Regions from separate parts of the Homo sapiens genome. Here region 2 is linked to region 1. Evidence: fine-mapped expression QTL. A gene starts in region 1. The other region holds a variant in brackets. All regions are shown on one strand. Distances are between the middles of the regions. Region 1 holds the start of DCP2 (decapping mRNA 2). Region 2 overlaps MCC (MCC regulator of Wnt signaling pathway).

Evidence for each region. PIP is the estimated chance that this variant, and not a neighbour inherited with it, causes the effect.
Region 2: its variant is fine-mapped to the expression of DCP2 in whole blood (INTERVAL, PIP above 0.99).

Annotation. Positions count from the first base shown.
Region 1 is chr5:112,963,759-112,980,034 of GRCh38, reverse strand. It overlaps DCP2 (decapping mRNA 2), which reads right to left and starts at 3,237. Exons shown (of 11, transcript NM_152624.6): 1 at 3,049-3,237. The coding sequence starts at 3,101. It overlaps LOC105379126 (a long non-coding RNA gene), which reads left to right and starts at 5,250. Exons shown (of 2, transcript XR_948679.3): 1 at 5,250-5,337; 2 at 8,082-8,224. RefSeq lists enhancers at 2,787-2,896, 3,007-3,056, 3,067-3,156, 3,227-3,276, 2,812-3,571 and 3 more.
Region 2 is chr5:113,029,438-113,037,437 of GRCh38, reverse strand. The region is part of intron 17 of MCC (MCC regulator of Wnt signaling pathway); the gene reads left to right. Among named protein-coding and RNA genes, the nearest start is that of DCP2, 57 kb to the right of the region's middle. RefSeq lists an enhancer at 2,607-3,165. The variant G/C (reference allele first, on the strand shown) is at 4,330.

The DNA of each region.
Region 1 (16,276 bases):
TCACTAGAATATTTTAAGACCAAACTCTTCCCTTCCTCTCCTCTAATTCTACTCCACTCAGAAAGTAACCAGTGTTATCAGTTTGGCGCATATTCTTTCGGCATACGAATACATATACCCCTTCCCCACCCACACACACACTTAAAAATTTGTTTTCACAAAAGGCACCAAGGGACTAAATAAGTATTTCACTCAGTATACTGTGTACATCTTTTCAACACACAAATATTTTCCCTCAGTTTACTGTGTGCTAATTGCCTGAGGAACTTAGAATGGCTGCACAATATTCCAATAAATAGAATGTTACATACTAAAGCATCAGCCTTAGGTTATGAGCAGTCTAAAGGTTACAAAGTCACATTTTGAAAATTTAAGTCTGCTGCTCTCCACATCAAAAGGCAAGATTTAACAGAAACATGTAATTTATCAAAAAACAAAGTAACACAAAAGAAAACTTCCTATATACACTAATAATAAGCAACAGAATTGGGGCAAAAAATGAAGGGAGTAAAAACAAGCACCTAGCTTGAATTCATAAATCAAGACGTACATAAAAGAGAGCAAAGAAGTTCAGAAAAATTAACCTCAAATTAAGCTTTATTTTTACAGAAGTTTACCAAATTCTAAGTGTAAAAAAAAAGTTTTAGTCTACAATGAAAAGCTTGAATCTGTAACATTAAAAATATTTCAATTAATCAAAGCTATAAATATTAACTTGAAAATGGCATTTATTTTAAAATCTGAAGTTTTGAGAAATGTTTATTTGGTTTCATTATTACAGCCAGCCCTAATTTTTAAATATATCATATCCTTATTTATACAGCCAAAAACAGTAACTGCAAAAAGAAATTTCTTGAAAGGAAAAAAATGTTACTCCATTCAAAAATATTTGTTTAACAGCTTAAATACACTCACTGGAAAACCAACTATCTTTAACACTTGACAGGTGCTTAACATATTGTTTACAAAATACAACGTAATTATTTTGTGAATAGGTTCCATACATAAAATCGTTAACAGCTGACATCACTTATTTAAATGATGTAATCCTAGATAATATGCAAATTAACCCCAATACTAGAAGGAAGACTAGCTCTGATGTCTGTAAAATGTTTAAGATTACCACATCTTTTTCTAAATCAACTCTTAACCCTATTAACACACAGCTAATTACTGATCACCTTTCTAAATACTTATCTTCAATTTTTTTCTAACTATAAAATGCATAAAAAATATTGGAAACAAAAAATAAAGATCACAATCTCATAATCCCACTATTGGTTGATGTGCGTCTAGTCATTAACCCACATACACATATCAAATTCAGTTTCTTTTTCCTTTTTTTTTTTTTATTTGGGACAAGAAACTAAATGCCTTTTCAGTGGTTCATTTGAATCTACCATACTTCAAAAATTATAAATCTACCATCACCAAAGAAGTACAGCGCCATTTGTATTAGTTGCAAAATTAGGCTATTTACTTTTCTGTATGTACTTTTGTGAGGTTTAAAACGTTAGGCTTATTACTTCTCCTTGGTATGAGAGAAAAAGCACAGGCACTGGAAAGAAAAAGGAATAGGTGTGAAATCTTGATTTTGTGAATTAGGATGAATGTGACCTTATGTAAATTACAAAGTTCCTGAATCTGTTTGCGCAGATGAAAATGGAAATATACTAACTGCACCTACCAAACACGGCTGACTGAGGATTAAATAAAACAATACATGTAAAGGTAGTGCCTGGTGCACAGTAGAAACTCCAGGCCGGGCGCGATGGCTCACGCCTGTAATCCCAGCACTTTGGGAGGCCGAGGCGGGTGGATCACGAGGTCAGAAGTTCGAGACCAGCACGGCCAAGATGGTGAAATCCCGTCTCTACTAAAAATACAAAAATTAGCCGGGTGTGGTGGCGGGTGCCTGTAATCCCAGCTGCTAGGGAGGCTGAGGCAGAGACTCGTTTGAATCCGGAAGGCAGAGGTTGCAGTGAGCCAAGACCGCACCACTGCACACCAGCCTGGGCAAAAGAAAGAGGCTCCGTCTCAAAAAATAAAAACAAAAAAACAAACAAACAAAAAAAACCCCAAAAAACTCCACAAACACCAGTTCTTTACTTTCCATTAAAAAAAACTGCATGAAGGAGATACAACTACTAAAAGCCTGCCTTTTAAAACATAAACACAGTAACTGTGAACGAAAAGGTGTTATCACTTGTAATCACAATCCACACACACTTGGCGACAACTCCGGGTATCACTGCACTCCAAATTTTACCTTCGGAAAATAAGCATTTTTAAGTATCCTACACGTGTTTGGCTATCTGAAATCAGAGTTGACAAGGGGGAAGAATGCAGAAAATTTCTCATCTGAAGTATACACCCTGAGTTAAAACCCCGCGGTTGAGAATTTCCTTTAAAATAGGATTATTAAGGATAAAAAGAAAAGCAGCGCTACACTTTTTCCCTCTCTCCCCCAAAGACAAGTCCAGGGATGAGAAAAAAAAAGTAATTCCTTACAGGAATTTACAGAGAACGCCACGGACAAATAACACGCAGGCGTCAGAATAAGTCCGAAAATTTGCTCCTTGCGCAGGTCCGCGTACCTGGGATCCTAAGCCTTAAATTACTACCCTGGGGGTCTTCCTTCAGAATCGGGGAATGAGACACAGGGAGGAGGGGGTGCACGGCGTGGAAAAGTCACAGAGGCAGAAAAAACAATGGGAGAGGGAGGCGGCGGCGGCGGCAAAACGCTAAGACCCAGGCTCCGGCGAAGCGGCTACGCCTGCGGGAAAGCAAAATAGTTGAGTAACTTAAAAAATGAGGAAATTCCGGGTGTTCTGCGGGGAAGGACGGAGGGCCTTGAGAAACAGGGAGGCTGCGGCGGAAAGAGGGGCGGTGTCGTCGGAGAGCAGGGTCGACGATGGAAAGCGAGCAGCGGCGGGAGCGGAAAGCGAGGACATGGACGTGGGCGGGGAAGAAGACCCAGAGGCCTCTGGGGGTCCGCGAAACTGAGAAAACCCGACGGGGGCGAAAGGGGGTCGGGTAGCGCGGTACCTGCAGAGATCGTCCAGGACGCTGCCGGGAATCTCCACCCGTTTGGTCTCCATGATGAGGACCCACAGCAGGAACAGTGCATCCCGGCTCCGCGCGGCCGGGGACTGACGGTACGGCACTAGGACTCCGGCTCGCCGGAGAGCTGGCAGCCGAGGAAGCCGCGGCAGAGACGACTCCAACGGAGACGAGAAGGGGAAGGGGCGGGACCCGCTCACTTCCGTCCCGCTCCCTCAGCCTTGGACCCCAAGACTGGGCCAAGGCTCGGGGCGGAGCCCCCGGAGTCACGCCCCTGCTCGCTTGAAAGGCCCAATGGGAAGCTGAAGAATTGGGACTCTAAGCACTCTAAGCCAATGAGACGTTTGTTTATTGGTCTGCTACTTCCAATCCGTCTTCAAGCTGCTCAGTTGCTACTCAGAAAACCAACTTCCCGCCGCCTTTGAGGTGGCTACACGCATGCGCACCATGCCTCCTGCGCGCTTCTGGGAAGTTCAGAGGGGTCGGGGCTTAGGTGTAGACCCCGGACACATATCCGGGACTTTGGCATGTTGTGCAGGACCTCGCGGTGACTGAGCTCTTTCCTCTGCAGGGCCGACCCTGAGAATCCGTACAACACAAGAGTATGCTCGCGATTCCTGTCACCAAGTATCTTGCACTTATCGCAGCCCCCACCAACTCCAGGCCAAGAGCTGTGCCTCTTTCACTACAAACCCTTGGAGAGGGTATCCATTTTGGAGGTGGCTCTCCTCTGTGCTTCCTTAGGCACCTGGTTCCAAACATGAAGACAAGGACTTTATCTCAGTATCTGGCACCTAGCAAAATCTTAGAAAATACTGATTTAAGCTGAACTCTGATCTGTATTCCACCCTCTGCACAAAGCAATCCCCACCTGCTCGTCCTTATTCATTCCTCGTCTTGCTTAATGGAGACCAATCCATTTGGGATCTTTGGAGAAACTAGATCCATCTGTTCTTTTTCCTCTTACATCAGACCCACAGGCCCACACACACCTGCTCCGTCACAAGTTTAGTCTGTTCTACCATTTAATCTCCCATCTTTTGTCTAAATTTGTCACATGCCACTGTGTACTTCAGTTTTGCATCATTTCTCCATACTACAGTGAGAGCTGCCTAACCACTGACTCTGCCTCCATTCTTGGCCTGTGCAACTGCCTACATTTTGTTTTGTTTTACTCAGATAGGAACAAGTTATCTTTTCAGTTTCTGCTGTATGATCAAGCCCAAGTTCCTTTGGCATAAGAGGCCCGTCACCATCTATTTTGCTCCCGTTTTCCATCTTTTTTTTCCCCTCTTTCTTGGAGAATTCCTCAAATTTATCTTCCTGACAACTACAGAGTTTTTACTTATTTAGAGTTCTGTTTTGTTCTTCAAATGCCCCTTTCTTGTGGTGTCACATTCTTGCTTTGTATATTTTATTTTATCCTTCTGAGGATATTAATAATAGATTTTGACGTTTTCTTCTCCCTGAGTAGTCTTATTCCTCTCAGCTGCTTTTTGCTATTATCTTGATCTCATCTATCCTATTAGAAGCCTCTGTAGTCCTTGACTATTCACTCACACTTAAGAGTAAGGCCTTAACCTGGAGTCAAGTGCCTTGAAAGCTAATTGGAAGCTCTCACCTTGTAGATGGTACTTGTTTCCTGAGAGCTTCACTGTAGGATGATCTGGCTGAGCTGTTGGTTGGAAACACATGGTATCAGTATCTGTACGTAATTCTTTCTGCTGATGAAATTCCCTAAAGAGAAAATGCTTCCAGGCACAGCTTCATGTATTCTGGGAGTCCAGTACAGAAGCACAGGCTGCAGTATTCCATTTGCTTTATTCAGTACTCCCAGCACAGTCCAAGTCTTATTTTAGATTTCCTAAGAAGCAGGCACTGAGACAAGATTTTGAGTGCAGATAGCCTGTGAGGGAGGTGATCTTGGGAAACATTGGTAGGAGAGCAGGAAAGTGAGTCAAGGAGGGGAGGAAAGCCAAAAGGTTTATTATCAAGGAAATTAGCACTGTGGTTAACTGGAGCTTACTGTCACTGGAGAACTCTGGTGGCCAGTATAAAACATATACCTCAGAGTTATCCCACTCAAGGGGTGAGGGAGATGGGGATTTATATACCAACTTCCTTCATTGGTTGAAGGCAGCTCCTGGGGTCTGCACTCTAGCCTGCTACATGGGCAGCAAGATGGGCTCTGGTGGCCAGAAAAAGTCCTACGGCAAAGAAATGCAGATACTAGCAGTTGGACCTCCAGCCAGTGTAGTGGATGGATTGGTAAAGGTAAGAGTGAGCCCCTTCAGTTCTATTTTGCTGGGTGTGCATTCTACCTGTTCTGACTGAATGTCTTTTCTCTGACTGGGAGGCACCATAGTGGTTTTCTTAGTTGTCTCACTTAGAGCTCAAGTCTAGTTTTTAGAGTATTCTAAATGATGGCAGTGGAACAACAGTTCAAGGCAAAGTGGTGCTCACCCACATGGGCCAATGGTATATTAATAGAAACAAGCAGGTTACCAAGCACTTGCTGAAGCACCTGGAGGAATTCTTCTTACTAGCTTTCTAGTCTCCCAGTTTAGGGGCAGCTATACAACCCCTTTTGGGCTCTTAGAGGCCAGGAAGTCCCCAAACTCTCACATGGTGTTAAACCAATCTGCCTTATTAAGAGTTTCTGAGATGTCTGTGGTCCAAGATATTATCTTGCCCATGCCCCATCCCTCCACTGCCTCCTCACACACAGATTTCCAGGAGCTGGACTAGTGCAACCCTTATAGCAGCCCCCCAAGCCATGACTTCCAAAGAAGCCAACTGTATGGTAGAGGCACCTGACAGCAGTAACGTAAGCAGACCCAGGGGAATGACCCTGTGTGGCAGACAACCTGAATGAGTTTGCAGTTACAACCAAGATTCATTCCTTATCTATGAGGAACATCTGAGCCCTGTGGAATGCAGGCTGCACAGGAGGGCTAGGCCCTTTGTTTTGGGCTAAATGAAAGTTGTCAGGTGGAAGCTGTTAGGGAGAGGGTGCAAAATGAAAATGCTATATAAACTGCATGCTTTCTGCAGGTGATGTTGTTCTCATGTCCAGCTCACCTCTAGTGGACCGCTCTGTATGCAAGTTCCTCTCAATAAACCATATGCCTCATTTGCTGGCTCTGGGTCTCTTCTTCAGCCTCTTGAACCTAGTGCCATCCCTGTTAAAGTGAATAGGGACACCAAGGCCTCAATTCCATCTAATTGTTCACAGGACCCAGCTGAGAATGACAAAGGGGAGCTTAGAGTTGAGGTAACAGGAGAACAGGAGATGCTAGGGTTCTTAAATTATAATACTGATTTGATTTTTAAATAATTAGGTTGATTAAAACCTTTATAGTTTTAAAATATGCTATTTCATTTAGTCTTTTTTTTGGAACAAGATCCCACTCTGTTGCCCAGGCTGGAGTGCAGTGGCATAGCTCACTCCTGGGCTCAGTCTCCCACCTCACCCTCCCAAGTAGCTAGGAATACAAGTGCGCACCACCAGGCCTGGCTAATTATTTTTTTAAAAACTTTGTAGAGACAGGGGTCTCACTAGGTTGCCTATGTTAGTCCTAAACTCCTGGCCTCAAGCAATCCTCCTTCCTCAACTTCCCAAAGCACTGGGATTACAGGCATGAGCCACCGTGCCTGGCCTCATTTAGTCTTTATTACTACATGAAATAGACAAAGATTAATGAGGCTTATAAAGATTAAATGACTCAAAGATTAATGATTAAGCAACAGTATATAATTGAGTCAGGACTAGCATTCAGTTCTAAACTCATAGCAGGAATTCTGCCTTAGGGAGAATGACACAAAAACTATTGTTTATGCCTGTACAGCATATTATACTATAATATTCAAATATAATAATCTCACAACAAAATAAGCTGTCACTGAATCCTAAAAAATATTTAACTTGCTTATTGGCCTTTTAAATTGAGTGAGGTCGCCTGTAATCCCAGCACTTTGGGAGGCCAGGGCGGGTGGATCATGAGGTCGGGAGATCGAGACCATCTTGGCTAACACGGTGAAACCCTGTCTCTACTGAAAATACAAAAACTTAGCCAGGTGTGGTGGCAGACGCCTTTGGTCCCAGGTACTTGGGAGGCTGAGGCAGGAGAATGGCGTGAACCCAGGAGGCGGAGCTTGCAGTGAGCAGAGATCACACCACTGCATTCCAGCCTGGGCGACAGAGCGAGACTCTGACTCAAAAAAAATAAAAATAAAAATAAATAAATAATTAAATAGAGTGAGGTTAAATTAAGTCTGTCAAAGCTTCTTCACATCCCTACAAAGTTCTTATGGTTCAACTCAATGTTTATAGAGTAATACATAATTGCCCCTTCTGTTAGTCCCACACTCTTTCTAGTATAATATCTCCCACAGCATATAATATGTTTTAGTAACATCTACCAAGAAACAAAAATCTCCCTTGATCTCTATGGCAGTCTTACTAGATGCTGACTGTATTAGTCCGTTCTCACACTCCTAATAAAGACATACCCGAGACTGGGTAATTTATAAAGGAAAGAGGTTTAATTGACTCAGTTCCACATGGCTGGGGAGGCCTCACATCATGGCAGAAGGCAAAGGAAGAGCAAAGTCATATTTTACATGGCAGCAGGCAAAACGAGCATGTGCAGGGGAACTCCCCTATATAAAACCATCAGGTCTTGTGAGATTTATTCACTGTCATGAGAACAGCACAGGAAAGACCCACCCCCATTATTCAATTACCTCCCACCAGGTGCCTCCCATGACACATGGGAATTATGGAAGCTACAATTCAAGATGAGATTTGGGTGGGGACACAGCCAAACCATGTCACTCACCAATCCCGTTTCCTCTTCCTGGATTCACAGGCCTCCTTGCATTTAGATGGAAAAACGCAATTGAGTTCTGGCCAGTGGAATGAAGATAAACGTGATATACCCAACTTCAAAGCACAGCTCCTGAAATGCTCTATGTAATTTTCACATAATTTTTATTTCTCCCTTTTCTCTTCCCAGCTGAAAGCAAAGAACTCTTTAGATAGTGGAGTCACACTGGAAAAAGCACAGACCCTTGAGTGTACTGCTTGGAGGAGAGCTACCCTGGAGCATTTGCTCCAGATTCTGCATGAGCAAAAAATAAACTTTTGCTGCATAAAGTATCTTGTTTTTTTGTTGTTGGGTTTTTTTTCTCTTTACACACAAACCCTTTTCCATAATCAGTAAATGCAGGTTGTAGTGGTCATTCTTGTTTGCATGCCCAGCACTCATTTACCCAGGGCCAGCTGCATGTGTGTGTATGTATAAACCGTATAGTTGCACAGAACCCTACACTCAGAAAGGCCCCATGTTTGGTTTAATGCTCTGCTGTTACCATCTTGAAATTCTCAATTTTGTTTTTGAACTTGTGTTTTGTAAGTAAAATTGGAGGGACAATAGAGCATGAGCAGAGCCGAGACGTGCAATATGCATGTCCACTCACTCTTTGCCATGCCATTTGCATATAGCATTTGCATTGTCCTATTTAAATAGAATTTCACTGAACTCACAATGCATGAAAGTTCAGCAAGATTCAGAGTAAGAACAACATAGGCACATAGGAACTGAGTAGGTGGGGTCGCTGTCAGCCCTAGGAGGTCAAGCTTCCTGTGTATCAGAACTTGTTCTAATGCAAGAAGACAATGGCAGTCTAAAAACACAAAGAACCAAGAAACTCTATCATATCCTTTCCTATTGCTTTCCTGATTTAGCCAACCCCTTATGCTGAAAATGATGACATAGAAGGAAAGGGGAAGATCGAGCAACCCATCTTTTCCTTTTCTTTTTAGTTTTTTCCTCATCAATAAGAAGGTAGAGAGTGTGGTAGAATATGTATGTGCATATCAAGAAGTGACGTAAAAACAGTTGACTTTCGTACAGCATTTTGACTGTTCTGGTAACAATGAAATATATCATACATGTACAAAGTATGAAATAAGAATTATGTAATTTCAGTGATTCCACGTACAAGTTAAATGTTCTTATATTTGCATTTAAAACCAAAATTGTGGTTGGGCGCAGTGGCTCACACCTGTAATCCCAGCACTTTGGGAGGCTGAGGTGGGCAGATCATGAGGTCAGGAAATCGAGACCATCCTGGCCAATATGGTGAAACCCTGTCTCTACTAAAAATACAAAAATTAGCTGGGTGTGGTGGTGCATGCCTGTAATCTCAGCTACTCGGGAGGCTGAGGCAGGAGAATCACTTGAATCCGGGAGGAAAGATTGCAGTGAGCTGAGATAGCATCTCTGCACTTCAGCCTGGCGACATAGCGAGACTCCATCTCAAAAAAAAAAATAAAAAAGAAAAAAAAAAAAAAAAGCCAGCATTGCATAATATAAAGATGGTAAAAAGTCTTTGTAATGATTTTAATTTTACTTAGAATGAATTTAATTTTACTTAATTTTAATTTTAATCTTTATTTAGAATGACATTAAATATCAAAAACACCATAAGTGAAGAGAGAAACTGTGAAAGAAAGAAAAAGCCTTTATATTCTAGTATTTTTGTTGTTGTTGTAGTTAAGAGATGAGGTCTCAGTTTGTTGCCCAGGCCAGACTTAAACTCCTGGGCTCAGCAATCCTCCTGCGTAACTGATACTATAAGTGTATGCCACCTCGCCTGGCTTTCTAGCACCTTTAGTGACACTTTTTTCCTGCCTTTTGAATAAGGAGCTCTATATTTTCATGAGAGGAACAGGCTCTGCAAATTATGTATTAATAGCAGGCCCTGAATTCACCCCTTACTCTTTCCTAACAGAACCCTGATTAAGACATGTATCCCTTAGCTTCCCTCACACAGCACATGTGACTCTGGGGAAGCCAGAAACACTTTTGGCTCAAAGGCCAAAATCTGGTTGGTAAATCAAACACCACACTCCATTCCCTGGAAATGTACCCATTCTCTGGACAGGTACATACCTACATAGTCCAGTCAGTGTATACCATAGAACTCTTGCTTAAAACTTCGTGATGAAAAAGTCTCTCTTCTTTCATTGGATGTCATCAGGTCAGGATATGATGTCTGGAACTTCTACAGCCAGTACTCAGTGACTGATATACTACTACTCACTATCACTTTGAGGTTGAAGCTAATGTGTGGAATGGGGCAAAGCTGAAAGATCTGTAGGAAAATGGACCCAGAATTGTCAGGAAACGGGCTGGGAGAGAGACAGAGAGCACTAGCTGAGCTAACAGGTATCAGAGTAGCCAATTAGACCAACGAGCCAAAAATGAGAGTAGCGTTTACTGCAATGATACAAACAAGAAACAGAGAAAGTACCCACAGTTTCTGTTCCATTTCCCCCATGGAACTGCGCACTAGCTGCAGGTCACATGAGTCAGCACGGATGTAGGGGGTCATGGAGTCATATCACTGTTAAGGGATCCCTGAAGAAAAAGCTCCAGCAGTTTTATGGACTCTGAGGTGGAGTAGGGGAAGGCAAGGGGGAAAGGCTAAGAGTGGAAAAGTACTGAGTACCTAGGCAACCTGGAAAAGAATGTCAAGGTTTCCCCTCCCCTCCCCATAAGGAGGCCTCAGCAGAGAAGCCTAAAGAACCCTCTCCCCAGCCAGGCACAGTGGCTCACGCCTGTAATCCCAACACTTTGGGAGGCCAAGGCTGGCAGTTTGCTTGAGCTACTGAGTTCGAGACCAGCCTAGGCAACATGGCAAAACCTTGTCTCTACAAAAACTACAGAAAAATTAGCCTGGCATGGTGGCATCCACCTGTAGTCCCAGCTATTCAGGAGGCTGAGGTGGAAGGAGTGCTTGAGCCCGGGAAGCCAAGGCTGCAGTGAGCTGAGATTGTACCACTGTACTACAGCCTGGGTGACAGAGCCAGACCCTCTCTCAAAAGAAAAAAAAAAAAATCCTCTGCACAAGGCCTCAGATAAAGAAACCTAGGAATGAAGGAGGCACCAGGGATAGGAATGCAAATATTTACAGTCATGAGTTGCTTCAGAACAGGATACATTCTGAGAAATGCATTGTTGGGCGATTTTGTCATTGTGTGAACATTATAGAGTATACTGGTACAAACATAGATGGCATAACCTACCTAGGCTATATAGTACAGCCTATTGCTCCCAGGCTACAAACTTGTACAGTATGTTACTATACTGAATACTATAGGCAATTGTAATACAATGGTAAGGCTTTATAGATCTAAAAATATCTAAACACAAAAAAGGCACAGTCAAAATATGGTATAATAATCTTATGGAACCAACACCTTCGAATATGTTGTTGGTTGAAATGCTGTTATGTGACCCGTGACTGTATCAGAGCCTGCAGCACACTAGCTGTGCACCAAGTCTGTGGAAGGGAGAGCAGCTTTCCTCCATGAGGGCTGCCAGGTAGAGGCTTTGTAATCACCTGCAATCAGACAGACCTGAAAAACCACACGTAGGTTTTTAACCAGGAGCTGGAATCCTCAAGAACTAAGTGAAACCCAAAGCCTATCCTACCTCTGAACTTACATGAACCAAATATTTCTTAAGCCGAAGCTGTTATTTGAGCCTAAATCATTTTAATTTATATGTTCCTCTATCCATCCAGTAGCTCAAATCAGAAAACCTAAGAGTGAATCTTGATTCCTGTTTTTCTCATATATCACTATGCCCAATACATCAGCAATTCCTAACTAGTCTACCACCAAAACATATCTAAGATCCATCCCCATTTCCTCCACCTTAACTTTCCCCACCTTAGTCCAGGCCACAGCACTTCTCACTTAGACTACTTCAACTGGCTTCTAACTGGTCTCCTGTCTTGCACCCATGCTCCATTTTAATCTGTCCTCCACAGAGCAGCAAGAGTGATCAGGCTGGGGATGGTGGCTTACTCCTATAATCCCTACATTTAAGGAAGCTGAGGTTGGGGGATCGCTCCTGGACAGGAAGGAGTTAGAAACCAGCCTGAGCAATATAGTAAGATCCCGTATCTACAAAAGTAAAAAGGAAAAAACAAAAAAAAACCCATGCATAGTGGTGTACACTCATACTCCCAGCTACTCCAGAGGCTGAGGCAGGAGGATCCCTTGAGCCCAGGAGTTCAAGGTTACAGTGAGCTATGATTGCATCACTGAACTCCAGCCTGAGCAAAAAAGAGTAATAATCTTTTATTTATTTATTTATTGTAATTTTTTTAGAGTCAAGTTCCCACTCTCTTGCCCAGGCTAAAGTGCAGTGGTGTGATCATAGCTCACAGCAGCCTCACACCCTTGAGCTCAAGTGATCCTCCTGCCTCAGCCTCTCAAGTAGTTTGGACTACAGGCATGTGCCACCATGCCTTGCTAATTTTTGTTTTTGTTTGTTTATTTGTTTTGTTTTGAGATGGAGCTTCTTTCTTGTCGCCCAAGCTGGAGTGCAATGGCCTGATCTCCGCTCACTGTAACCTCCGCCTCCCGAGTTCAAGCAGTTCTCCTGTTTCAGCCTCCCAAGTAGCTGGGATTACAGGCATGCACCACCACGCCCAGCTAATTTTAATCTGTATTAAAATTAATAATTTATATTTTTAGCAGAAATGGGTTTTCACCATGTTAGCCAGGCTCATCTTGAACTCCTGACCTCTGGTGATCTGCCCACCTTGGCCTCCCAAAGTGCTGGGATTACAGGCATGAGCCACCATGCCCATCCTAATTTTCATATTTTTTGTAGAGACAGTCTTACTATGTTGCCTAGACTTGTCTCAAACTCCTGGGCTCAAGTAATCCTCCTGCCTTGGCCTCCCAAAGTGCTGGGATTACAGACACGAACCACTGCAGCTGGCCTGTGATCATCTTAAAACCCAAATTTGAATGATGGGCATGGTGGCATGTGCCTCTAGTCCCAGCTACTCAGGAAGTCCCTTGAGCCCAGTCTGGCCTGAGCAACATAGCAAGGCCTTATCTTTATAAGACCCTGTCTCTACAAAAATAAAGGAAAAAATGACATAAATTTAATCACATCACTCTCCTGCTTAAAATTTTTCATGACCCTCAGAGTAAACTCTAGTTTGCTATCTAAGAGAACTTACACGACGGAGCACTAAATGTCACTTTAGCTTCATCCTATGTCCCATCTTCATCTGTCTCTGCTACACTCTAGCCATATTAGTCTTTTTGAAATTCGTCAAATACCCCAAGCTCTTTCCAAATACCATTCCCACTGCCTGGAATGTTGCACCTACCTTCCATGATCCCCTCCTTTTCACCTTTATGTATGGGTTAAATGTCACCTCTTCAAAAAACCTTCCCTGGCCGCTCTATTTAAATAGTCTCGACTGGGTGTGGTGGCTCACACATGTAATGCCAGCACTTCAGGAGGCCGAGGCAGGTGGATCACCTGAGGTCAGGAGTTCATGGCCAACATGGTGAAACCCTGTCTCTACTAAAAAAAAAAAAAAAATTAGCCGGGTGTGGTGGCACGTGCGTATAGTCCCAGATACTCGGGAGGCTGAGGCAGGAGACTCACTGGAACCCAGGAGGCACAGGTTGCACTGAGCTGAGATTGCATCACCGCACTCCAGCCTGGGTGACAGAATGAGACTCAGTCTCTAAATAAATAAATAAATAAATAAATAAATAGTTTCTACTGTCATTACCTATCACATGTCTTTGTTTCCTTCATACTATGCTTCTTCAATTTGAAACATTTTCAATGCCTCTCCCCCATTATACTATATGTTACAAAAAAGCAGGGATCTTTTCTAATTTATCCACTAATTCCCCAGTGCTTAGAATACCTCAGTCATATCTATGACCTCTATAAACATTTGTTAACCAAAGAATAGGAAAATGAATGAGTTATCACCAAATATGTGCTGAGGTGACTAGGAAGGAGGTGATGAGACGCAAAATCTCAAAATGAGTAAGAGAGAATTACTTTTTAAAAAACAGAAAGAGGCCAGACGTGGTGGCTCACGCCTGTTATCCCTGCTCTTTGAGAGGACGAGGCAGGGGGATTGCTTGTAACTATGAGTTCGAGACCAGCCCGAGCAACATAGGGAGACCCCATCTCTACAAAAACCCAAAAAGATTAGCTAGGCATGGTGGCGCCTGTGGTCCCAGCTACTTGAAAGGCTGAGGAGAGAGGACTGCTTGAGCCTGGGAGGTCAAGGATGCAGGGGGCCATGATAGTGACACTGTACTCCAGCCTGGACAACAAAGCAAGACCGTGGCTCAAAATAAAATGAAATCAGAGTGAATCTCTGCTTTCTAAGAGTGAATCTCATCTTCCTAACATGTCGGAAAAGATGAACTCATTCTAGCTCAGTTAGGTTTTTGTTACTTTCACCAGAGTCCTAATACAGAGCTCGCTTGCTCTATGTGTATATGTTAAACAAATATATGTGATATATAAAACAAATATAAATATAATAAGTGTATAATAATATATAAATGTATGTGAAATATAAACATAGTAAGTATAAATGTACACTGCACATAAAACAACTCTTGAACTCTAGACTATGCCTCTTTTCTTTTGCCCTCCCCTTCCTGTTCCCTGTCATGTCTAACTCCCATGCACTGATGTATTTGCCCAGAATGGGAGGAGGCAGTTGAAAGGGGACAAATGGAATTGTCAGACCCAAGTAAAAAAGTTCTAAGCGGCCGAGCACGGTGGCTCACACCTGTAATCCCAGCACTTTGGGAGGCCGAGGCAGGCAGATCACGAGGTCAGGAGTTCGAGACCAGCCTTACCAACATGGTGAAACCCCAACTCTACTAAAAACATAAAAATTAGCCAGGCGTGGTGGCACATGCCTGTAATCTCAGCTACTCAGGAGGCTGAGGCATGAGAATAGCCTGAACTTGGGAGTCAGAGGTTGCAGTGAGCCGAGATCGCGCCACTGCACTCTAGCCTGGGTGACAGAGCAAGACTCCATCTCGAAAAAAAAAACAAAAAAAGCTCTAAGCTAGTGATTAACAACCTTCTTTTGCATGAGGAACAAATTAGAAAAAGTAAAATTATTTTTGAACTTTAAAAAAAAATCTTAACTTTAAAAATCAGAAATACAATTTCTATAACGGTTCTTAAGAATCTGCTTATTAATTTCCTGTCATTGACTAAAATTTCAAAACTAAGTTATTAATACACACTAATTATTATGTTGAATCTTTGAATAAATTTTGTTGTTGAGTAAGTATCCTAAAGGCTGGCTTTTCTTTCTTTTCTTTTTTTTTTTTTTTGAGATGGTGTCTCACTGTCACCCAGGCTGGAGTGTGGTGGCGCGATCTCAGCTCACTGCAACCTCCTCCTCCTGGGTTCAAGTGATTCTCCTGTCTCAGCCTCCTGAGTAGCTGGGACTACAGGCACATGCCACCATGCCAGGCTGATTTTTGTATTCTTAGTAGAGATAGGGTTTCACCATATTGGTTAGGCTGGTCTCAAACTCCTGACCTAGGGTGATCCACCCACCTCGGCTTCTCAAAGTGCTGGGATTACAGGCGTGAGCCACCATGGCTGGCCAAGGCTGGTGTTTATTTTCTTAATGACCTTGTAAGCATCTTAACCGGAAAAAGGAGTTTGTCTTATAGCGCCTCTTACAATGAATTCTTTAAAAGAAGTTGTTTTGTTAAAAACAATGATGAACAAACCAACCCAAAGAAATACAAAGAAGCACCTCTCCAATCACTCACTGGTAAACTCATCAGCTAAGTTTGGCCCCATAACTCTGTGCTGGCTGGTCTTCATGTACCTCCTAAGTCCCCAGTTGTGTGGCACTCTCCAGAGGCCCCACCTGGGTAGACCTAACTATTTCCAGAATACACAAGGAAGCCAAGTATGTTTTATCTGCTACCAGCAGAGGGTGTTCATTCCTTTTTTCCATTTTTAAATTTTGCATCATACTGCTGAGTAATATTTTTAGTACAAGAACATGACTTTAAAACTGCAGCTTTTGACATACATAGGACTCCACTTCTTAGGAGTCCTGTAATGGAACTGGGAAATGGCAGTGTTTTCTGGTTAAATGACTCAGAACTCTGAAGAAACCCTTTCTCACACAACGAAACCTCCCCCTTAGAGTTACTTCTTTTAGTCATCACAGCACTGCCAAACAGTGATACAATCTCACTCTGTAATTAGTTTTCTATTGCTGTTATAACAAATTACCACAGACTTGATGGCTTAAACAATACAAACGTATGGCCAAGTGCAGTGGCTCATGCCTGTAATCCCAGCACTTTGGGAGG
Region 2 (8,000 bases), 62 kb before region 1:
TACGGGCATGAGCCACTGTGCCCGGCCCTGACTACTCTTTACCCATCAGTGGCCCACAGAGCCCTTGACTGTTACCAGTGCCTTCGAAAAAGCCAGCGAGACTCCTCAGAGTTCAAATCCATGTCCAAGTTCATACACCATCCACCCAACTGTAGAAAACTTCCAGACTTGTAGGAACCAACATTTGTCCCTGAATGGAAAAAGGATGACCCTAGTTGACCCCTATTTCAGCAGCTGTGGATGAATACTGTTTTTGAGCCACACAAAGAGTGGGATAAAATGAAAAGGGAAGTGGGTGGGGTGCTTTTTAAAAGGGAGCCCCCACTGAACAAATAAGCAGCAGAATCTTCACTGGTTCATGAGGAGGACCATTATTGTAAAAGGTGCTGTTTTATTTAAACTTGCTGATTCTTCATATTTGGTTGATGTATAAAAGCAATCAAGCAATGGAAGTTGTGCTTAGAATTCCATAAAAGCACATGGGTCTGCAGGACATTAATGGAATACAAAGTGTGCCTGTGGCTTCATTAGCACGCAAATAAACTGCTGAGCCCCAGAGCCAAGTGCCTAGAAGCACAGAGGGTGAAGACTGAGGCTCACTCAAGGGATGGAGGGGTTGTTGCTTGAGTAATTGAGATTTATTTTACTTTTTTGCCATCCCTCCAGCATCCCCAAAGCTCAAAGAGAAGAAGGCCTTGCCTGGGACCTCATAAAGGCAGAGTGGTAGAGGGCACTGGAACACCCAGCAGCCACTGGCAAGGCCTGTGAAAACTCCAGATGGATTTCCTGGACAAGAAACATGTTCATAGCAAAGTCTGGGCAAAAAAAAGTTAGACTGCTGTTGTCCTTGTGCTGCTACTCCTGGCAAAACACAGCCACCGACATACCTGCAGAACCTCATTATCTGGGGACACTTGAGCCTTAGTTCTGCAGGGCTGCACTGTTAAGCAGAGGTCTTGTTTATCTTGCACTCTACTGTATTCCCTTTGTGAATCACAGGCTACTACCCAGTGAGATGCGTAAGGGCACAGGCTCTGCAGACAGAATCCCAGGTGGGAGTCCCAGTTCTGCAGGGACTAATCTTAAGTTCCTCATCTATAGGCCAGGCGCGGTGGCTCACGCCTGTAATCCTAGTACTTTCGGAGGCCAAGGCAGGTGGATCACCTGAAATTAGGAATTCAAGACTGGCCTGGCCAACATGGTGAAACCCTGTCCCTACTAAAAATACAAAAATGAGCTGGGCATGGTGACAGGTGCCTATAATCCCAGCTACTCAGGAGGCTGAGGCAGGAGAATCACTTGAACCCTAGGGGTTGGAGGTTGTGTTGAGCCCAAGATCGCACCACTGCACTTCAGACCGGGCGAAAGAGTGAGACTCCATCTCAAAAAAAAAAAAAAAAAAAAAAAAAAAAAAAAAAAAAAAAAGTTCCTCATCCTTAAAAATGAGAATCATGATAGTACTGACTTCCAAGGTTATGTGGGAATGAAATGATGTTATCCTTATAAAGGACTTAGAGACAGCTGTTATCTGCTGCCTGGATTTTCTAAAAAATAAGTAAACATTGTGGTGATTACCATGAAGGAAACGGGATGATGTGATACAGTCACTGTGGAGATTTTTTTTCCAATAAAGTAACTTTAGTTTGCAATGAATAATATGAAGGAAATGGTAAGGCGTGGTGATGTCTTAGCTCTGGGACATGAGTTTAGATGGGTGGTCAGTCTAGGCCTCTCTGGGAGGTGACACTGAAGCTGAGATGAGGAGGAGAGAGGCAGAATCATATCCGGAAGAGGCCCTGGCTGTGCAGGGCTGTGTTGAGGACCTACAGGATTCCATCAGGGCAAGGGTGATTCCAGCAGCCCAAAGGCCCAGCAAGTAGCACTCAGGTCAAGCAGGGCCTTAGAGGTCCAGGCAAGACCACAGGGTTTATTCCACGTGTAGGTGAAAGGCAGTGAAGGACAGTAACATGATCAGATCTGTCATGTGAAATGTTACCTGGGCTGCTGTGTGAAAACCAGGGCAGAGGGATGCAGGGGAGGAGACAGAGAAACCAGTTAGCAGGCTGTTGTGGTTGTCCGGGTGAGAAGTGATGACCACTTGGACCTGGGTGTGGTGACAATGGCAGGATGAGACTTGGCAGATAGAGTTTGCTGTTGAACAGATGTCAAGGATGAGGGGAGGAGGAGTTAAGGCTTACTCCAAGTAACTTAAACTGCCTTTGCAAGAAGGCAGAGAGATCTGAGCCCAATGAGTGACTGGCTGAAAGGTGGTGCCATTAGCCAACACAGGAGAGAGAGTGGCTGTTGGAGGTCATCTGGGAAGTAATCCTCTGGACATGTGAAATCGCAGATGCCAGTTAAGAGGCCGCAAACAGACAAGTCCAGAGATCCAAGGAAAGGCCAGAAGATTAAGAGTGTGGAAGTTTTTAGGAAAAGGGAATGGAGGGAGTCCATTAGAGAAAAGGATAAGATAAAATACAGGCCAGGCCCAAGTCCTAAACAACACCCAGTATTTTGTCATGGAGTATAGAAAGGGAGCAGCCAATGAAGCAGAACGAAATCAGGCTCTGGAGGCCTTGTGCAAGCCATGAGCAAAGAGGCTGTCAGCCCTGCAGGTGATGCGGGCAGGTAAGAAAAGGACAGAAGGGACCAGACCGCTGGATGCAACAACTTGGAGCTCACTGGTGAGCTCAGTGATCCACGTCAGTGGAGACAGAGCCTGACGGGTTAAAAGTAAATGGAAGGTGAGGATGAGAGACATCACATATGCAGACAATTCTCTTAGTGACTAATTCCATATAATCAGCAATTACTAAGAAATTCTAGGCCTTGTGGCTGCATGGCTGTGACTCCCTGTGGTTTGGTCTGATTACAGCTCCTCTGAAAGGTTTCCTGGCCAGCTGTGAAGCCACTCACAGCCTCATTGAGACTGGGCTCTCGCCCGATGACTCCTGCAGCTCCTCAATTGGACTCTAATCACAGAGTACCGCTGCTGGCCTTTTTATTTTAGGGAGAATATAACCTCCTTACTGATGGCTCACGAAGCCGCACTGCCAGGCTACCCAGGTACACCAACAAGCACCACTTCCGAGGCTTGCTTCGCTCTGCCCAGCGTACTGGCAAGCCACCTTGGTTTTCATATTACCTTTAAATTCACACCACGAGGCTGCCTCTTAATTCCCTGTGTATATTCCACTGCCTTGAAACGTACCACATTACGTTTCAATTAAAAAGAATCCACCAGGTGGAGTTGCTCAGGCCTGTAATCTCAGCATTTTGGGAGGGCAAGGTGGGAGGACCACTAGAGCCCAGTAGTTTGCAACCAGCCTGGGCAACATAGTTAAGACCCTATCTCTACAAAAAAAAAAAAAAAAGTTTTAAAAATTAGCCCAGCATGGTGGCACACACCTGTAGTCCCAGCCACTCAGGAGGCTGAGGTGAGGGGATTGCTTGAGCCTGGGAGGTCGAGGCTGCAGTGAGCTGTGATTTGTGCCACTGTACTCCAGCCTGGATGACAGATCAAGACCCTGTCTCTTAAAAGTCCCACCCTGGCTCTGCGGTTAGAGTCATACGACCTTTTATCACCAGGAATAAGAAGCCCAAAAGCTGAAGTGGGAAGACGTGGAACTGAAATCCATGTGTGTACTGGGGGACTTCAGTTGTCACAGTCATTACAATCCAGCATTGTTTTTGCTTGATGCTATGGGGTATATTTGTGAGTGCCAATACTACTGGGCATAAAAAAGGAATGGATTATGTATTTCTGGCCATTCCAGGAAACACTGTATGAATACATTACTATTGAAGGTGCATATGGAACGTGTAGTGTTGAATTTTTGCTTTCTCATTTGTGTGAAGCCAAGAAAGCTTGTTTTGGCCTAACTTATGTACCCAAACCATATAAAATCTTAACGAAAGGCTAAGCAAATTTAAATTAGAAGGAGAAAGGAACAAGAATGGTTGAGGTTTCAATGTGACTTGAATTAGTAAGCTATGTTTCTTTGCATTTTCCATGTCATCGTTTGAAAATCTGAGGAAAACTGTAGACTTGATAAAGTGAGCCCCGTGCTTGCAATTTTGCATATAAATTCAGAAAGTCAGTTCCAGGAGTAACTGAAGCTCATCCTCAGGTCCAGGTGAGGAACTCTTCTGCCTTACGCCAGTCCCTCAAGCTTGCCTGATGACAAGAGTCAGCTGGGGCCCTTGTTAAACTGCAATTCCTGGGTCTCAACCGAAACCTACTTAGTCAGAAGCCAGGGAAAATATCTGGTAATGCTGTTACTGGAAAATATTACCGATCCAGACCCCAAGAGAGGGTTCTTGGATCTT[G/C]TGCAAGAAAGAATTCAGGGCAAGCCCACAGAGTAAAATGAAAGCAAGTTTATTAGGAAAGTAAAGGAAAAGAATGGCTACTCCATAGAGCAGCCTTGGGGGCTGCTGGTTGCCCATTTTTATGGTTACTTCTTGATAATATGCTAAACAAAGGGTGGATTATTCATACCTCCCCTTTTTAGACGTTATAGGGTAACTTCCTGATGTTGCCATGGCATTTGTAAACTGTTGTGGCGCTGGTGAGAGTGTAGCAGTGAGGACGATTAGAGGTCATTCTTGTGGCCGTCTTGGGTTTGCTGTTTTGGCTGGCTTCTTTACTGCAATGTTTTATCAGCAAGGTCTTTATGACCTGTATTTTGTGCTGACCTCCTATCTCATCCTGTGACTTAGAATGCCTTAACCATCTGGGAATGCAGCCCAGTAGGTCTTAGCCTCACTTTTACCTAACTCCTATTTAAGATGGAGTTGCTCTGGTTCACATGCCTCTGACAGCATTAAACAATTGGTCTAGAGCAGCACTGTCCACTGGTGATATAATATGATCCACAAATGCAAGGCATGTATGTAATTTTAAATTTTCTAGTAGTCCCATGAAAAAAGTAGAGACACACATGAAATTAATTTTAATAACAATGTAACCCAGTATGTCCAAAATATCTCAACATGTAATCAGTATCCTTTTTTTTTTTTTTTTTTTTTTGATACAGAGTTTCATTCTTGTTTCCCAGGTTGGAGCGCAGTGGCGCGATCTCGGCTTACTGCAACCTCCACCTCCCAGGTTCAAGCGATTCTCCTGCCTCAGGCTCCCAAGTAGCTGAGATTACAGGCAAGCGCCACCACACCCAGCTAATTTTGTATTTAGTAGAGACAGGGTTTCTCCATGTTGGTCAGGCTGGTCTTGAACTCCCGACATCAGGTGATCCGCCAGCCCCGGCCTACCAAAGTGCTGGGATTACAGGCGTGAGCCACAGCGCCCGGCCCCTGTAATCAGTATTTTTTAAACTAAATAGATATTTTACATTTTTTTGTGTTGTCATGAAAACAGATCAACCAACCCAAATTTTAGGTTTAAGTTTACAGTTTGGCCTCGTCTTTGCATCTTTAAATAAATGAGCATCATAGTTCTTTCCTGGGGTTTCTCCCAGCGGTTCACTCCCATTCCCTTCTGAAGGCCAGGCAGTTCTAAGCTCCCAGCAATGGCTACTCCCCACTCCTGCGCCACAACCCTAAGCTGGGGTTGGCCTGGGTCTGAGAGACTCTCTCCTGCCCTTCTGGGGTTCTATCCTCCTTTGGAGCCTGCCAGATCCAGAAAGTTCCCTCTGGTCCCCTGAGGGCCTGGGTGCTGGGGAAGGAAGCGTTTTGTCTTGTGGAAGGGCTGGGATTTCCAGTCTCCCTGTTCACTGAGTGTGGATAGGAGTGGGGGAGGGAGGGGATTTGACTGCTCTAGGTAGCATCCCAGAGTTTTTTGTTGTGAATTTCTTATTGAGTTTGTGGTTACATTTTTAACTCTTCAGTATTTTTTTTCCTTTTACACTATTAATCAACATTAGAATGAAAGATAAAGGGCTCTAAATGGTAATAAAATGTAGGGCAAAAAACCCTTCCCTGCTGTTTTTAGCTGGAGGGAAGCAGGAGTCCCTGGCTTCCCTCCGCTGGAGGAGGACTGCTGGGAAGGCCGAGGAGGTGTTGGGGGGCGGGTGGGGAGGAAAGGAGCCCCCCTCCTGCAACACCATCCTCACTGCTGGTAGGAAATGCTGCCACTCTCCAATGCCGGGAGGAAATGCAGCCAGATCCGAGATGTCCTGGAGGCTGCTAGGGCCCAGGAAAAACACACGCTCCTTCCAGCTTAGCAGAGGCGGGTAGGAGGATTTACTGAAAAATGAGTTCTGGGCTGAGGGCTGGTTGCTAGACTTCCCTTAAAGATCCTGCCCCTTCCATCCTCTCTCCCAAAAGCAGGCCTGGATTTTACGTTGTAATTCCTTTCTTCATTGATCAGTTTGGAGAGCTTGACTTACCCTCATAGTAGCTAAAGGCAGAAATGTAAAAGATTAGATATATGAAAAGCTAGGAAAGGAGAACCAGGGTCTGAACAGTTTGGGCAGCAGAAAGGAGCCTTCTACCCCGACGTCACATTCCCATGCCGTTCCTACATGACTCTAACTCGCACTTTACAGAAAATATACAAAATTGTAAAAATATCTGGCAATGCAAAAGTGAGTGAAGTAGAAAATGAAAGCCTCCCATCAACCCCCTTCAGGAGTTAAGCACTGTTGAGTTTGTGTTTCACCTTCTAGTCTTATTACAGTGTCAGATATTCACACTCAGCTTTTCAGTTTTTACAAAAATGGCATCTTTAGAACTCACCCTTTTTGCTTAATGTATCAGATATCCTCCCATGCCAGTGCATGGCCATCTGATTTTTTTGTTTGTTTTGAGATGGTCTCACTCCGTCACCCAAGCTGGAGTGCAGTGGCAGGATCATGGCTCACTGGTCTTGACCTCCTGGACTCAAGCGATCCTCCCAACTTAGCCTCCTGAGTAGCATGGACTACAGGCATGACCCACCATATCTGGCTAAGTTTTATATTTTTTTGTAGAGATGGGGTTTCACCATGTTGCCCAGGCTGGTCTTCAATTTCTGAGCTCAAGTAATCCACATTCCTTGGCCTCCTAAAGTGCTGAGATTACAGGCATGAGTCACTGCCCCCAGCCCTCCATCTGCATTTTAAAAATATTTTTCAAGCAGAGCATTTCGGTAGCATGGGTAGGCCGTGATTAACCAGTTCCCTGCTTGTCTCCCTTTATTAGGCATTATTGTAACCAATGCCTAAGTGAATCCAAATATAAGTGATGTATCTTTAGGAACCTGTGCTCCTGATATCTCTGTAAAATCAATTCCTAGAAGTGAAGTTGCTTAGTCAAGGGGCATGTTCATTTATTATTTTGCTAGATCCTACCCAACTGTCTTATAAATTAATCATGCAAATTTACATTCTACATACAGTGAGTCCTTTTTAAACGAATTCCTTCCCTAAATCCTGGTTTCTTAATATGCCCAAAGAATCAAATACATTACCTTCAGTAAGTTGTTCTAAAGCTGTTTTAACAGTCACTAGAAGCTGTCACCCAGGCACGGTGCTCAGCACTGGGGGTGCATTGGGGAATCAAACCAAGTAAAGTCCTTGCCACTCTAGAACCCAACATGACCATGGGGGAGCGTCATGGCTCCAGCACGTAATACGGTGACATAGTGCTGAGTGTGCTACTAAGTGGAGTAACACTGTGCATGTGATAGAAGGATCTTGGAAGGGAGTCAGAGTAGTCGAGAAGGCTTTGATTAGTGTTTCCCTGCTGGGTCTTGTGGGAATTAGAGGAAGGCAATGAGCTGACTGGATACTGGAAACCTCCCTGAACTGACTCTAATTAGCTTGGGTTACCAAAGTAGTAGAGGATCCACAGAACTTGAAGCTGCTTTGCCTGTGGAGGGCACGTAGTCAAAAGTGCAAATGTAATTTCATGGGAAATAAGGACCCTTACAATGAAGAGAGTATCATATCTACTCCCTCTACCAATTTTTTGGTTTTTGGCAAGGTGGGATCATGTTGGTCTCAATGAGTGGGGACCTGTTCAAGGTAGGTTGCTAAACCTGAGTGGTTCAGGAGATACTTAGG